Homo sapiens: one gene and its partner. The protein of the gene in region 1 interacts with the protein of each later gene in a biochemical or structural test. Each region holds a gene or a part of one and is shown in the gene's direction. Other genes may lie near its edges.

Region 1 (9,025 bases):
TTTCATTGAGCAGCGGTTTGTAGTTCTCCTTGAAGAGGAGAACTTCACATCCCTTGTAAGCTGGATTCCTAGATATTTTATTCTCTTTGTAGTAATTGTGAATGGGAGTTCACTCATGATTTGGCTCTCTGTTTGTCTATTATTGGTGTGTAGGAATGCTTGTGATTTTTGTAAATTGATTTTGTATCCTGAGACTTTCCTGAAGTTGCTTATCAGCTTAAGGAGTTTTGGGGCTGAGACGATGGGGTTTCCTAAATATACAATCATGTCATCTGCAAACAGAGACAATTTGACTTCCTCTTTTCCTAATTGAATATCCATTTCTTTCTCTTGCCTGATTGCCCTATTCAGAACTTCCGACACTATGTTGAATAGGAGTGGTGAGAGAGGACATCCTTGTCTTGTGCCGGTTTTCAAAGGGAATGCTTCTAGTTTTTGCCCATTCAGTATGATATTGGCTGTGGGTTTGTCATAAATAGCTCTTACTATTTTGAGATACGTTCCATTGATACCTAGTTTATTCAGAGTTTTTAGCATGAAAGGCTGTTGAATTTTGTCAAAGGCCTTTTCTGCATCTATTGAGGTAATTATGTGGTTTTTGTCATTGGTTCTGTTTATGTGATGGATTACATTTATTGATTTGGTATTTTGAACCCAGCCTTGCATCCCAGGGATGACGCTGACTTGATCCTGGTGGATAAGCTTTTTGATGTTTTGCTGGATTTGATTTGCCAGTATTTTATTGAGGATTTTCGCATCGATATTCTTTAGGGATATTGGACTAAAATTCTCTTTTTTTGTTGTGTCTCTGTCAGGCTTTGGTATCAGGAGATACTGGCCTCATAAAATGAGTTAGGGAGGATTCCCTCCTTTTCTATTGTTCAGAAAAATTTCAGAAGGAATGATAACAGCTCCTCTTTGTATCTCTGGTAGAATTCAGCTGTGAATCCATTTGGTCCTGGACTTTTTTTGGTTGGTAGCCTATTAATAATTGCCTCAATTCAAAACCTATTATTGGTCTATTCAGAGATTCAACTTCTTCCTGGTTTAGTCTTGGGAGGGGGCATGTGTCCAGGAATTTATCTATTTCTTCTAGATTTTCTAGTTTATTTGCATAGAGGTGTTTATAGTATTCTCTGATGGTAATTTGCATTTCTGTGGGATCAGTGGTGATATCCTTTTTATCATTATTTATTGCATCTATTTGATTCTTCTTTTTTCTTTATTAGTCTTGCTAGCAGTCTATCTATTTTGTTGACCTTTTTCAAAAAACCAGCTCCTGGATTCACTGATTTTTTGAAGGGTTTGTTGTGTCTCTATCTCCTTCTGTTCTGCTCTGATCTTAGTTATTTCTTGTCTCCTGCTAGCTTTTGAATTTGTTTACTCTTGCTTCTCTAGTTCTGTTAATTGTGATGTTACTGTGTCAATTTTAGATCTTTCCTGCTTTCTCTAGTGGGCATTTAATGCTATAAATTTCCCTCTACACACTGCTTTAAATGTGTCCCAGAGATTCTGGTACATTGTGCCTTTGTTCTCATTGGTTTCATAGAACATCTTTATTTCTGCCTTCACTTCCTTATTTACCCAGTAGTCATTCAGGAGCAAGTTGTTCAGTTTCCATGTAGTTGTGTGATTTTGAGTCACTTTCTTAATCATGAGTTGTAATTTGATTTCACTGTGGTCTGAGAGACAGTTTGTTGTGATTTCTTTTCTTTTACATTTGCTGAGGAGTATATTACTTCCAATTATGTGGTCAATTTTAGAATAAGTGCGATGTGGTGCTGAGAAGAATGTATATTCTGTTAATTTGGGGTGGAGATTTCTGTAGATGTCTATTAGGTCCTCTTGGTCCAGAGCTGAGTTCAAGTTCTGAATATCCTTGTTAATTTTCTGTCTTGTTGATCTGTCTAATATTGACAGTGGGGTGTTAAAATCTCCCATTATTATTGTGTGGAAATCTTAGTCTCTTTGTAGGTCTCTAAGAACTTGCTTTATGAATCTGGGTGCTCCTGTATTTGGGTGCATATATATTTAGGATATTTAGCTCTTCCTGTTGTATTGATCCCATCACCATTATGTAATGCCCATCTTTGTCTCTTTTGATCTTTGTTGGTTTAATATTCTTTTTAAAATAAAATATTTTAAACATATGAAACATTATGGAGAATGGCATGGGAAATATCCACGTATGCACCACCCAGCTTAACAAATGCTCTACTGTCATTTCTAACCATGGTCTCTTTGAAGAGCTCTTTTGTCTTTCAATGTCTCTTCCTTGTTTGGCCCACATTATCCTTCATCATATGAAGACTTGAGTGGCTCCTGTGTCAGACTCTTGCTGTGTGTCATACCTAATGAACTAGAACCTAAGATTACTGTGTATTGTACAACTAAGGGATTATGTAAAGTCAGGATCAAAGTCTGGCTTCCTGGGTTGGGCTCCAGCTGTAGAATAAGGCTGTTGATGTTTAATCAACTCTGTTTTTTTCACACAGCTTTTATGATGGTCAACAGCCTGTGCTGGCTATCACAGATCCTGACATGATCAAAACAGTGCTAGTGAAAGAATGTTATTCTGTCTTCACAAACCGGAGGGTAAGCATTCATGTGTTGAAATTAAAATACTGATTGATTAAATTTATATTTTGAAATTCTTATATATTCATAGACAGTTGCCTAAAAAATGTCCAGGAAGGTTCCACGTCCACTTCATCCTGTCCCCCCCGAATGGTAACATCTTGCAATCTTGCATAACTATAAATACAGTATATTCATGTTACTATATAGTACAGGAAATTGACATTGATACAGTTCACAGAGCTTATTCAGATTTCACCAGCTTTATGTGCCCTCATTTCTGTTCTATGCAAATTTATCACAATCATAGATTTGTGCAATGACCAGCATGATCAAAACGCAGAACCCATTTGTGTTCTATACAAATTTATCACATCATTAGTAGATTTGTGCAATGACCAGCATGATCAAGATGCAGATCCACTCTGTCTCCATGTGGCTCCCTCCTGCTATCCTACAGTCACAAGTCTTTTTCTCTGACAGGGTCCATATCAGAGCAAACTATTTTTTATTTTGAGGTGATCAATGTATTAATATTTCCTTTTCTGGATTGTACTTTTGGTGCCATGTTTGAAAGTTCTTTGCCTAGCCCTCCTTCCTATATTGCTGTTTTTTTCTAAAAGTCATAAAGTTTAATGCTTTACTAAATGTAGCTCTATTATCAATTTTGTGTTATTTTTTGTATAAGGTATGAGATTTAGATCAAGGTTCATTTTTTTTGTGGCTTATGGCTGTCCAATTCCTCCAACGCCATTTTTGGAAAGATGGGTATATTGTTAAAAATCAACTGGGCATACTTCTTTGCATCTCTCACGTACTACTGTGTCCCATTGATCACTGTGTTTATTATTCCACCAATACCACACTGTGTTGACCCTAGTAGCTGTACACTAACTCTTAACCTCGTGTAGAGTGATTCTTCCCACTTTTATTGACTTATTTTTTCAGATTTGTTTTAACTCTTCCTGGTCCTCTGCTTTTCCATAAAAATTCAGAATGAGTTTCTCAGTGTCTACAAATAAACGTGCTGTTATTTTGACAAGAATTGAATTAAATATATAGACCAGTTTATGGAAAATGTGTATCTTTACTGTTTGATCTTTCAATTCATGAACATAGTATGCCTCTCCATTTCCTTAGATTTTCTTTGATTGCTTTTAACATCTTGTAGTTTTCAGCATAGAGATCCTGTACATGTTTTGTTAGATTTACAGCTAAATTATTTCATTTTTGTTGGAATGACTGTAAATGATATTATGTTTTTCTTGTATTTTCAGATATTGATTGTTGTTACATAGAAATGTGCTTTGATTTTGTGTGTTGATCTGGTATCCTAGAACCTTGCAGAACTGACATAGTAGTTCTAGAAGTCTCTTTGTATATGCCTTGAGATTTTACACATTGTCAGTTATGTCACTTGAAAATAGAGACAATTCTTTTATTTCCTTTCCAATCTGTATGCCTTTTATTTCTTTTCTTTTGTCTATTGCACTAGGACTTCCCAGTATAATGTTGAGTAAATGTGGTGAATTTTTGAATTGTTCCTAATCTTAGGAGGGAAGCCTTCAGTTCTTTCATCATTAAGCATCATTTAGATGAAGTGGGCTGTTTTTTTGTAGATTCTCTTTATCAAATTGAGGAATTTTCTCTCCCTAGTTTGCTGAGTTTTTATCATAAATGAATGCTGGAAGTACTCATTATAAAAAAAATGGCTATGGAAGATGAAAGAAAGTTTCAAGCATGTTGGCTTGATAGGCCAGTTCCAAGTTGGCAAAAATAATTATCTCTTTTTTCTTTCTATCCATGAAATAAAAAATTAAGAGACAAGAATGTTTATGGAATTGCATTATTTCTTCAAAATATGTTCCTAGTTTTAAAGGTATTACCTACTATTTTTTTTAAAACCATCACATTGAGGCACTTCTTTTTCACGTTGCCCATGCTGCAGGAGAACATAAAGACAGCTTGTCTGAGGCAACATACAATCCACCAAAGTCACCTGCTTGTCTGTCTCCACTCCGTCTCTACACTGCAGAAGTGCTAGGTCTTGATTCTGTTTATTGTACTGGAAGAACACATTCTCTACCACGTGGATAATTTGCATGTAAAAGAAGACTGGGATATAGAGGCTGGAGACGACATCAGGGTCTCCTGAACACTGCCGCCACCCCCCCGCCCCGCCCCACACAAATACATCCCAGGACACTGGGCATCTGGGATAAATCTCTATTGAGCATCTAGCATAGGGCCCATCACCCAGTAGACAGTCACTAAATAGTTGTTGAATAAGTGTTCCTGTTTAACACATTTTCTACAACCATGGAGACCTCCACAACTGATGTAGGACAAAATGTTTCTGCTTTGAACTCTAGCCTTTTGGTCCAGTGGGATTTATGAAAAGTGCCATCTCTATAGCTGAGGATGAAGAATGGAAGAGATTACGATCATTGCTGTCTCCAACCTTCACCAGTGGAAAACTCAAGGAGGTATGAAAATAACATGAGTTTTAATAAGAAACTTAAAGAATGAATCTGGTGGGGACAGGTATAAAATAAGATCACAGTCCCTTTCCAAGGGGTAGTCCACTGAATTTGAGCTGCCTAAAAATGGTCTTTTATCTTTATGTACAGAAAACACATCACAAAATTCATTATAAAATGTCACTTACTGCTCCATGCTGGGGAAAGCCATGTCCTTCTGGGACTAGAGTCTGCACATTTAACTATGGGTGGTGTTGTGTTTTGTGCTTAGATGGTCCCTATCATTGCCCAGTATGGAGATGTGTTGGTGAGAAATCTGAGGCGGGAAGCAGAGACAGGCAAGCCTGTCACCTTGAAAGAGTAAGTAGAAGCGCAGCCATGGGGTTCTGAGCTGTCATGAACCCCTCCAGCTGCCTGCCATGGAGCTGATATTCCTGCTGTTGGGTTATTCCAGTGACCAGACAAAAGGAGGGCTGTGGTAATGCAACTTCAATGGGTCTCCCAAGATGGGGCAGCTCCGATGAGGAGGTGGGGCAGCTGGAGGAAAAGGATCTTCTCCCCTGTGCACAGGGGCCAGGGTTTACATATCCATTAAATTGTCACCTTGGATATTCTAGAAGACTAAATATATCCTTTAGGGGGAAAAAGTGTGATTGTACCAAAGTTTTAAGCATGGAGTGTATGGGATGGTGGAAGGGGAAGGCACTTGGTATCTGTTGGTTGGCAGTGAGTAGGTTGGGAGAGTTATAATGGAGAACTTAGAATAACTTTGATCATTTCATGTTTTTTTCTGAGGATATCAGTAGAATACTAAATATTAAAATTCCTACCATTTCTTTTTCCTCCAGTCTCAAAGAGAGAGGGTGGTAAAAACACTATAGGTAGGGCAAGCCTATTATTTGCTATCTACACTTATGCAGTAAAAACAGGTGTAATCTGAGTTTGTCCTGGGCAGACCAGGGATATGTGGTCACTCACTATAGAAATTTCCAAATCAAATTTTGAGAGATTTTTTTTTAACCAGGACATTATTGGTCATTATATTTTACAAAAATAATTCTGCTGTCAGGGCAACCTCAGCTCACCACAGCTGGGGATAGTGGAATTTTCCAAAGCTTGAGCAGGGAGTATAGAGAATAAGGATGATATTTCTAGGAGCTCAGAACAGGGTACTGTTGCTTTGTAAAGTGCTGAAGAGGAATCGGCTCTGGGCATAGAGTCTGCAGTCAGGCAATATCACCTGTCTTGAGCCCCTTAGGAAGAGTTAATTATTCTACTCTTGTTCTGCTGAAGCACAGTGCTTACCCATCTTGTATCATCCACAATCAATACATGCTACTGTAGTTGTCTGATAGTGGGTCTCTGTCTTCCTATGATGGGCTCCTTGATCTCAGAGGTAGGTCTAATTCAGTTCAGTGTCTCCATCACACCCAGCGTAGGGCCAGCTGCATCACTGGCACCTGATAACACCTTCTGATGGAGTGTGATAGAAGGTGATCTAGTAGATCTGAAAGTCTGTGGCTGTTTGTCTGTCTTGACTGGACATGTGGGTTTCCTGTTGCATGCATAGAGGAAGGATGGTAAAAAGGTGCTGATTTTAATTTTCCACATCTTTCTCCACTCAGCGTCTTTGGGGCCTACAGCATGGATGTGATCACTAGCACATCATTTGGAGTGAACATCGACTCTCTCAACAATCCACAAGACCCCTTTGTGGAAAACACCAAGAAGCTTTTAAGATTTGATTTTTTGGATCCATTCTTTCTCTCAATAAGTATGTGGACTACTATTTCCTTTTATTTATCTTGCTCTCTTAAAAATAACTGCTTTATTGAGATATAAATCACCATGTAATTCATCCACTTAAAATATACAGTTCAGTGATTTGTAGTACATTTGAAGATATGTGTGACCATCATCATTTTAAACTTTAAAACTTTTTTTGTCAATCTAGAGACCTCATACATTTTTAGCTATCAGCCCCCTGTCACAAACCCTGTCATCATATGCAACCACTAATCAACTTTCTGCTTCTATGGATTTGCCTATTCTGGACACTTCATAGAAATGATATTAATTCATCAGGGTTTTTTATTCTCTAGTTCATGAATTTGTACTTTAGTCTGTATCATTTTCTTTCTTCTGCTGGCTTCAGGCTTAGTTTGCCCTTCTTCGTTTACTATGTTGTGGCATGAACATAGATTACTGATTTGTGATTTTTTTGTTCCTCTAAATTTAGACATTACAGCTGTAACTTTCCCTCTGAGCACTTCCTTTGCTAAATCCCATGAGATTGTGGTCTATCACATCTTAGTTTTTGTTCACCTCAAAACAGTTTCTATTTGCCCTTTTGGTTTCTACTTTGACTCATTGGTTACTTAAATGTTTATTATTTAACTTCCACATATGTGTGAGTTTCTCAATTTTCTTTCCCTTATTGATTTTATCTTTATTCCATGATAGGTGACAGAGATATGCTGTGTTATTTCTATCTTGACTACCTACTATTTCTTGAACAGCAAGATTAATTTTGAGCTTCAGATTATGATTTGGGTTATTCTAGGAGACTGTAGTCCAATAGATAAAGGCAAAGAGATTAGGGCATTGAATTTTGTTCCTTTTATCCTTCAAAAGATGCACAAGGGGCTGCTGATCTCACTGCTGTAGCGGTGCTCCTTATGCATAGACCTGCCCTTGCTCAGCCACTGGCCTGAAAGAGGGGCAAAAGTCATAGAAGGAATGGCTTCCAGTTGAGAACCTTGATGTCTTTTACTCTTCTGGTTGGTAGAGAAAACTAGAATTGCTCCAGGTAAATTTTGCACATTCACAATGAATTTCTTTTTCTGTTTTTGTTTTGTTTTTCCTACAGCAGTCTTTCCATTCCTCATCCCAATTCTTGAAGTATTAAATATCTGTGTGTTTCCAAGAGAAGTTACAAATTTTTTAAGAAAATCTGTAAAAAGGATGAAAGAAAGTCGCCTCGAAGATACACAAAAGGTAAAATGTGGTGGTAGTTATAGGAGGATGTTTAGTTTTTCATAATTTTTTAGATAATATACATATGATCAGTGCAGTTACCTGTATGTTTTTAAAGAATGCTTTTAACATGAAGACTGCTCATGTTTAGAGCAAGAGAATTCATTTGGTAGAAATGCAGAAAGTGGGGTTTGGGGAAGGAGATATGAGAATGAGTCAGAGACAGCACATGAAATTTGATATCAGACACAACAATTAGTATGCCACGGCATAAATTTTATTGAGATAAAACTTTACCACTTTACTTCCCTTCAATAAATTGTCAGAGGATAAACATTACTGTTTGGAAATATATTTTACTGATATTATGCTTTCCCCAGATCATAAATTGGTAAAGACTCATTTCAAGTACAAACCTGTTATTTTACACATTCTCAAATGAAAGTCCCTATCAGGCCACCTGCTGAAGTGTAGCGTGTGTTAAATTTGAGCCATCTCACATGATAGCCAGATTTGTTTCAGGAAAACATCCTGCTTTCCAAGGATTTAGAAGGGTATGTTTTTCACTGGTGATTCAGGCAACATGCATCAGATTTCTGGTCTTCAAGGAGCCATATTCTCAGAAGGGAGATCAAGGACCACGCTTGTGATTTACTTCTGACTTCAGGAGCCACTTTCTGTCAGTGAAATTTCTCTTTTTGCTTCTAGCACCGAGTGGATTTCCTTCAGCTGATGATTGACTCTCAGAATTCAAAAGAAACTGAGTCCCACAAAGGTAACCAGAGTGTTTCTGAGGGCTACTTGTGGGGCACTCAGAGGGAAGGCCTTGTTCTGAAAATGTGCAGGAAGTATTCCAGGATGATGAGAATTTCTGCCACATAGCAGAACGACACATGTTTGAATGTTATAAGTGGTAGTTGGAGGCACTTTCTAGAGGCATGCAGGCATAGATAGCCATGTTCTAAGAGTAAAGGGCAACCCTAAGCAAACCT
Region 2 (7,000 bases), on another chromosome or scaffold:
CCGGAAGCTGGGCTGTTAAATTAAAAGTCTGTTGAATCTTCTGATTTAAGAGGGAGGTTGAGAAGGTGAAGAGGAGACCGGGGGTGAAGGAGGTGGGGAGGAGGTGAAGGAGGTGGGGCAGGTGGCTCTGCTGTGAGAGGAGGAGGTGAGCAACCCCCTTGAAGGTTTCTTTCTCAAAATGTGGACCTCTGGCATCCTGGTATGTGGTCATCTGGGGTACTTGTAAAATGTAGTTTCCCTGGGGATCCATTTCAGAGAGAAGGGTGGAGCCTTGGAATCTTCATTTTAATGAATGCCCTAGGTGATTTGAGGAACACTAGTGGTTGAAAAACTGACCTAGGAAGAGGCTAGAGTGTGATGTCATGTAACCTTGACCTTGCTTGCTCTACCAAGTGTGGACAGTATTTTGTGGAGTGAGAGAAGCCATTGATGGGGCTTAAGTGGGGGTGGGGCATGGAGGAGTGGGGGTGCTGGCATGATTTCTTTTAGAAGATTGGGAGCAGTGTGGAAGATAGATTTATGTAGAGTGGGAAGAGGACGGGAGATCTAGTGACCTAAAACTTCCTCCTCCCAAGGGGGCCTCTCCAGGTGGCCCTCAGGCATGACATTGAGAAAGGATTTGGGAGGAGACTTCAGGGTTTTTACACTAACAAATATGTGGGTTTGACCTGAGAATTTGTTTCTCCTTGTCTTTCTAAAACTTCCATCCTAAAGTTTCATTTCAGATGAGTTTTTATTTTGTTACTCATTTCTGGGCTATTTTACATTGCTCAGATAATGCTTCCATTCAGCTACCTCTTGGTCCATTCTAGCATGGTTTTGGATTGTTCAGGTGTTTTGGCTTTTTCATTTTTTAATTCTTACTCATTACTTTTATTAGTTCCCTTTTCTGCTTTCTTAAATATCTGCTTCTAAAATTCTAAGAGCAAGATACGTGAATGGAGAAATAGAAATATGAAACTAATGTCAAGGTTCTGACTTAATTATGCAAATAATATCATTTAAATAGAACTCTCAAGGGGAAAAATGACCACAAACAAAAGTGGATAAAAGTGAATTGACCATTTAGAACAGGGATTGGCAAACTCGTGACCTATTTGACTAGGCCTGTTTTTGTCTTAACAGCTAAGAATGGTTTTTATATTTTTAAAGGGTTGTAAAACAAATTAAATAAATTAAGGAAGTTGCAGAGCCTAAAATATTCACTATCTGAGAGCACTTTAGAGAAAAATTGGCTGAATCCTATTTTAAAGAGCCGATTTTCGTATTATTATAAAACTTAAGGGCTGGGTTCAGTGGTTCACACCGGCAGTCTCAGCAGTTTGAGAGGCGGAGGCTGAGGCAGGAGGTGGAGGATTGCTTGAGGCCAGGAGCTGCCCAGGAGTCTGGGCAACATAGTGAGACCCCCTGCTCTACCAAAAAAAAAAAAAAAATTAGTCACCATTATAATTATGTGAAAATAGGCTTTTTAAAATAAGAGTCAGCCAATTTTTCTCTAAAGTGCTCTCAGATGGTGAATATTTTAGGCTCTGCAACTTCCTTATTTAATTTGTTTTACAACCCTTTAAAGATATAAAATACCTGCTTCTAAAATTCTAAGAGCAAGACATGTAAATGGAGAAATAGAAATATGAAACTACTGTCAAGGTTCTGACTTAATTATGCAAATTAAGTGTAGTGGCCTGTGCTGTAGTCCTAGCTGCTTGGGAGGCTGAGGCAGGAGGATTGCTTGAACCCAGAAGCTCAAGGTTACAGTGAGCTATGATTGTGCCACTGCACTGCAGTTTGGGCCAGAGTGAGACTCTGGTCTCAAAAAAAAAAAACAAAACAAAATTAAGAGCTGAAAGTGACTTCCTAGGTTTTAGTCTTTATGAGTTGACTATTTCAAGGTATATGAGGGAAAAATGTTAGCTCCAGAAATGTTGGGGCAGCTGAAGGAAAAAAGACTAAACTTGTGAATAATTGGATGTGAGCCTAGATAAATTAAAAATAAAAGGAATGTCTTCCAGGTGAGGGAGAAGGGGACTGCTATTTGATCACCTCCTAGGTATGCTTTGCGTGCGGACTCTCGTCTATTTCCCTAGTCTTGTTAAAGAAGGAACACAGTTATCATCTATGTGATGAAGGGGAGTGTGTGCATGTTTGTATTATGTGTTTGTTTCTGGGAGCCTGCAGAGAGGTAACAATACGTGAATTGTCCTTAAAGGGAGGAAACCACCAAATGGTAGGGGGCGCAGGGGAGTGGTGCTGGTGTAGGCAGGAGTCTAAGAAATATCCAGATTGACCATGTCTTGGAATAGGTTCCTAGTAGTTTAATCCCATGTCTTTGCAAGGTCATAAATAAGCACCTGTTGGTGGCCAACATTTTACAGGGTCAAAAACACCTGTAGGGTTACATGGTGATAAATGCACCTTCCTCTCTTTTTCTCCCAGGCAGGCCTAACTATTTTATAATTTAGTTTCTGTTTTCTCCAGTAGAAGAGTAGAACCATTCTGGAAGGGACATTTTCCTGCTGGGCCTTGGAGTGAAGGGAATTAACTTTGAGCCTTGAGTAAGTCAGGGTTGCTGGGATCACTGCTGCCTGACCTGCTACACTCTGAACGGGGACAAGTAAAACTTGTTTTTATTTTGTGTAGACTGGAAAAAAAAGGCATTTGGTGAGTTTTTAAAAAATGACTTGAAGCTTTGACAGCACTATAGCTATGAGAAACATTCTGAAGTGTTTTAATATAGTTGAATTTTTTTTTTTTTGAGTCAGAGTCTTTCTCTGTCGCCCAGGCTGGAGTGCAATGGCACAATCTCGGCTCACTGCAATCTCCGCCTCCTGGGTTCAAGCAATTCTCCTGCCTCAGCCACCCAAGTAGCTGAGATTACAGGTGTGCACCACCATGCCCAGCTAATTTTTTGTATTTTTAGTAGACACGGGATTTCACCATGTTGGCCAGGCTGGTCTTGAACTGCTGACCTCAGGTGATCCACTAACCTTGGCCTCCCAAAGTGCTGAGATTACAGGCATGAGCCACCACGCCTGGCCATAGTTGAAATACTGTGCTGTAACAGGAGAACTTGTTTTGGTTTGTTACTCATCAGTTTGTCATCATATGGTGAGAAAAATAATGTGGAATTGCAGAACTAGTCAGGTTAGTTTAGTAGATTCTAAACTTTAAAAAAATTTTAAAAAATAGATAATGCATGCTCAGGGTACAAAAGTTAAGGGGTACAGGCCTGGCATGGTGGCTCACACCTGTAATCTCAGCACTTTGGGAGGCCGAGGTGGGAGGATCACCTGAGGTCAGGAGATTGAGACCAGCCTGACCAACATGGTGAAACCCGTCTCTACTAAAAATACAAAAATTAGCCAGGCATGGTGGCAGGTGCCTGTAATCTCAGCTACTTGGGAAGCTGAGGCAGGAGAATCGCTTGAACCTGGGAGGTGGAAGTTGCAGTGAGCCAAGAATGCGCCGCTGCAGTCCAGCCCGGGCGACAGAGTGAGACTCTGTCTAAAATTAAAAAAAAAAAAAAAAGTTAAGGGATACAGAAGTGACATGCAGTGAAAAGTAGATCTCTCTCTCTCCCTGTTACCTGCTTCTCTCTTCCAGAAATGGCAATTATCAAATTCTTGTAATAAGTACTGTTGTTAAGTAGGAGACTAAGAAATACCCAAATTGATCAAGTCCTTGACAGTTCACACCTACATATTATACAAACGTGTGTGCACATATTTCCTTTTTTTTTTTGAGACGGAGTCTCGCTCTGTTGCCCAGGCTGGAGTGCAGTGGCGCGATCTCGGTTCACTGCAAGCTCCGCCTCCCAGGTTCACTCCATTCTCCTGCCTCAGCCTCCTGAATAGCTGGGACTACAGGCGCCCACCATGTGCCCGGATAATTTTTTGTATTTTTAGTAGAGATGGAGTTTGACTGAGTTAACCAGGATGGTCTCGATCTCCTGACCTCGTGATCCGCCCGCCTCGGCCTCCCAAAGTGCTGGGATTACAGGTGTGAGCCAGTGCGCCTGGCGTTTTTTTGTTTTTTGTTTTTTTTTGAGATGGAGTCTCACTCTGTCACCTAGGCTGGAGTGCAGTGGCATGATCTCGGCTCACTGCAACCTACGCCTCCCGGGTTCAAGCGATTCTCCTGCTTCAGCCTCCTGACTAGCTGGGATTACAGGAGAGCACTACCACCCCTGGCTAATTTTTGTATTTTTAGTAGAGATGGGGTTGCACCATGTTGGTCAGGCTGGTCTTGAACTCCTGACGTCGTGATTCTCCCTCGTCAGCCTCCCAAAGTGCTGGGATTACAGGCATGTTCCACTGTGCCTGATTCAGGGATTTATTTTATTTTAGTTTACTTTTTTTAAGCAGTTTTTTTTTTTTTTTTTGAATCAGAGTCTCACTCCGATTGCCCAGGCTAGAGTACAGTGATGCTATTTGGGCTTATTGCAGCCTCAACCTCCCTGTGTCTAGGGTGATTCTCCCACCTTAGCCTCCCAAGTAGCTGGGACTACAGGCACACACCACCATGCCTGGCTACATTTGTTGTGTTTTTAGTAGAGATGGGGTTTTGCCATGTTGCTCAGTCTGGTCTCGAACCCCTGGACTCAAGCAACTCACCCACCTTGGCCTTCCAAAGTACTGGGATTATAGACATGAGCCAGTGCTTTTAAATGAGGAATGCTCCAGTTATGTTTCTTTCAGTATAGGTTGAGAATACTTTATCCAAAATGCTTGGGACCCGAAGTTTTGGATTTGGGATTTTTTTCCTGGATTTTGGAATATTTGCATATACATAATGAAATATTTTGGGGATGGGACCCAAATGTAAACATGAAATTCCTCTGTTTCATATACATCTCATTCATACACATACCCTGAAGGTAGTTTCATTTTTCCCTTAGGGACACTGAGTAAACTGTTGTAAGTCTGCATTTTGACTGCGACTCGTCACATGAGGTCAGGTGTGGAATTTTCCACTTGTGACGCCATGTTGGTGCTCAGAAAGTTTTGGATTTTGGAGCATTTCAGATTTTGGATTTTTGCATCAGGGTTGCTCAATTGTATTTACAATTTTTCAAGCCTTTGTTAACTGAAGTTGAGAAGTTATATGTATGACACAATATTATTTATTTATTTATTTGAGACAAGGCCTCACTATGTTGCTCAGGCTGGAGCAGTACAGTGGTGCAATCACGGTTCCCTGCAGCCTTGACCTCCTGGGCTCAAGAGATCCTCCCACCTCAGCCTCCTCAGTAGCTGGGACTACAGGTGCACACCACCCCACCCGGCTAATTTTTGTATCTTTTGTGGAGATGGGGTTTCACTATGTTGGCCAGGCTGGTCTTGAACTCCTGAGTTCAAGCAATCCCCCCACCTTGGCCTCCGAAAGTGCTGGGATTATAGGTGCGAGATACTGTGCCAGGTCAGTATTTGTAATTAACATATAATCATTATAATTAAGGTATTTTTCTATAAATAGACATGGAATAGTTATTAATAATCATTAAGGTGTTTTAAAAAACTTTGCTTATAATCTTAAAATAAGGATTGCTTTCAATCCTTTGTAGCTTTGGTTACAAAGTTCACAACAGCTTATCTACTTTTTACATAAATTCCCTTTTTAGTATCAGTATACTCAGACTTTTTTTTTTTTTTTCCTGGTTAGCCATGTTAATTTTCAAATCTTCATTTAAATTAAAATAGGAAGTGGTTGTTCTATGGGTGATGGGATTATAAGAGACTTTTACCTTTTTTTGGATAAATTAAAGATACACATTTTTTATACCTTATTTGAATTCAAAGACTTATTTAGGCTGGGCGCAGTGGCTCATGCCTGTAATCCCAGTACTTTGGGAGGCCGAGGCAGACGGATCACTTGAGCCCAGGAGTTCGAGACCAGCCTGGGCAGCATGGTGAAACCATGTCTCTATAAAAAAATTCAAAAATTAGTGTGGTAGCTCACACCTGTAATCCCAGCTACTTGGGAGGCTGATACAGGAGAATAGCTTGAACCTGGAAGGCCGAGGTTGCAGTGAGCGGAGATTGCACCATTGTGCTTTAGTTTGGGCAACAGAGTGAGACTGTCAGAAAAAAAATAAATAAATAGACTTTTATTTAAAGAGTTTGAGAAATAGTAAATAATACTTTATTTTTTATTTGATAACTTAAGATGTGTGTGACAGTACTGTTTTGAATAGAGAAATGTTTAAGTGACCCTAAATTTGTTTTTTTTCTCCATCATTACTCTCGTAGTAGCCTGCTTGGCCTTCTGTTAAATTGCTTACCATGCTCTATCTCTTGTAGATTCTAAAAGCTCTTTGAGTTTAGGGTTCAGAGCTCCCTCATTTTTCTGATTTCCCACATGCCTCGAACAAGTGCTAAATGTGTTGCATTTATTTTTTAAATTCATATGACTGACTACATGTAAAAACGGGAAGAATTATTTTAAGAAATTGCGTCGTAATAAAGCTGGGGCATGTTTGGCTGGGGGATGTGACATGAGGGGTTGTGGTTTTGTCTTATGACATTTCTCTTAGTTAATGTGGCTGAGATTGGTTAGATCACAATGAAGGTGAGTCTTTTTAGCATCTATTTCATCACCTTAAAAATGAACATTTCAAGTTACCTGAATTGTTTTTTCTTTTTAAAAAATTTTATATATTTTTCAGTAGGGGCAAGGTTTTGCTGTGTTGCCCAGGCTGGTCTCAAATTCCTGGCCTCAAGCAGTCCTCCCACCTTGGTCTCCCAAAGTGCCAGGATTACAAGTGTGAGCCACCATGCTCCTGGTGATCTGGACCATTTTGAATAGGTCTGTTACACAGATTAGGATATTTGGGGCAACTAGTTTGGGCGTTTGTTCCTGGTTGTTTGAAGGATTTAAGTACCAAAACAGTTTATTTCTTTAGCAGAACTATTTTCGTTTCAATCCTTTAAAAATGTATTACATACTTCCTTGGCCCATTAGGCAGACAGAATAGAACTAAATTTAATCATTTGTAATGAATCAG

The links. The genes of interacting proteins can lie anywhere in the genome.
Region 2: of the proteins of CYP3A4 (region 1) and AMFR, one has a biochemical effect on the other in vitro, tested with the Homo sapiens proteins (4 studies listed by BioGRID).

The regions. Positions count from the first base shown.
Region 1 is NC_000007.14:99,766,160-99,775,184, reverse strand, and holds part of CYP3A4 (cytochrome P450 3A4), read left to right. Parts: intron 1-2,495; coding exon 2,496-2,595; intron 2,596-4,949; coding exon 4,950-5,063; intron 5,064-5,328; coding exon 5,329-5,417; intron 5,418-6,682; coding exon 6,683-6,831; intron 6,832-7,926; coding exon 7,927-8,054; intron 8,055-8,288; exon of another isoform or gene 8,289-8,741; coding exon 8,742-8,808; exon of another isoform or gene 8,809-9,025.
Region 2 is NC_000016.10:56,415,546-56,422,545, reverse strand, and holds part of AMFR (E3 ubiquitin-protein ligase AMFR), read left to right. Parts: intron 1-7,000. UniProt on the Homo sapiens protein: E3 ubiquitin-protein ligase that mediates the polyubiquitination of lysine and cysteine residues on target proteins, such as CD3D, CYP3A4, CFTR, INSIG1, SOAT2/ACAT2 and APOB for proteasomal degradation.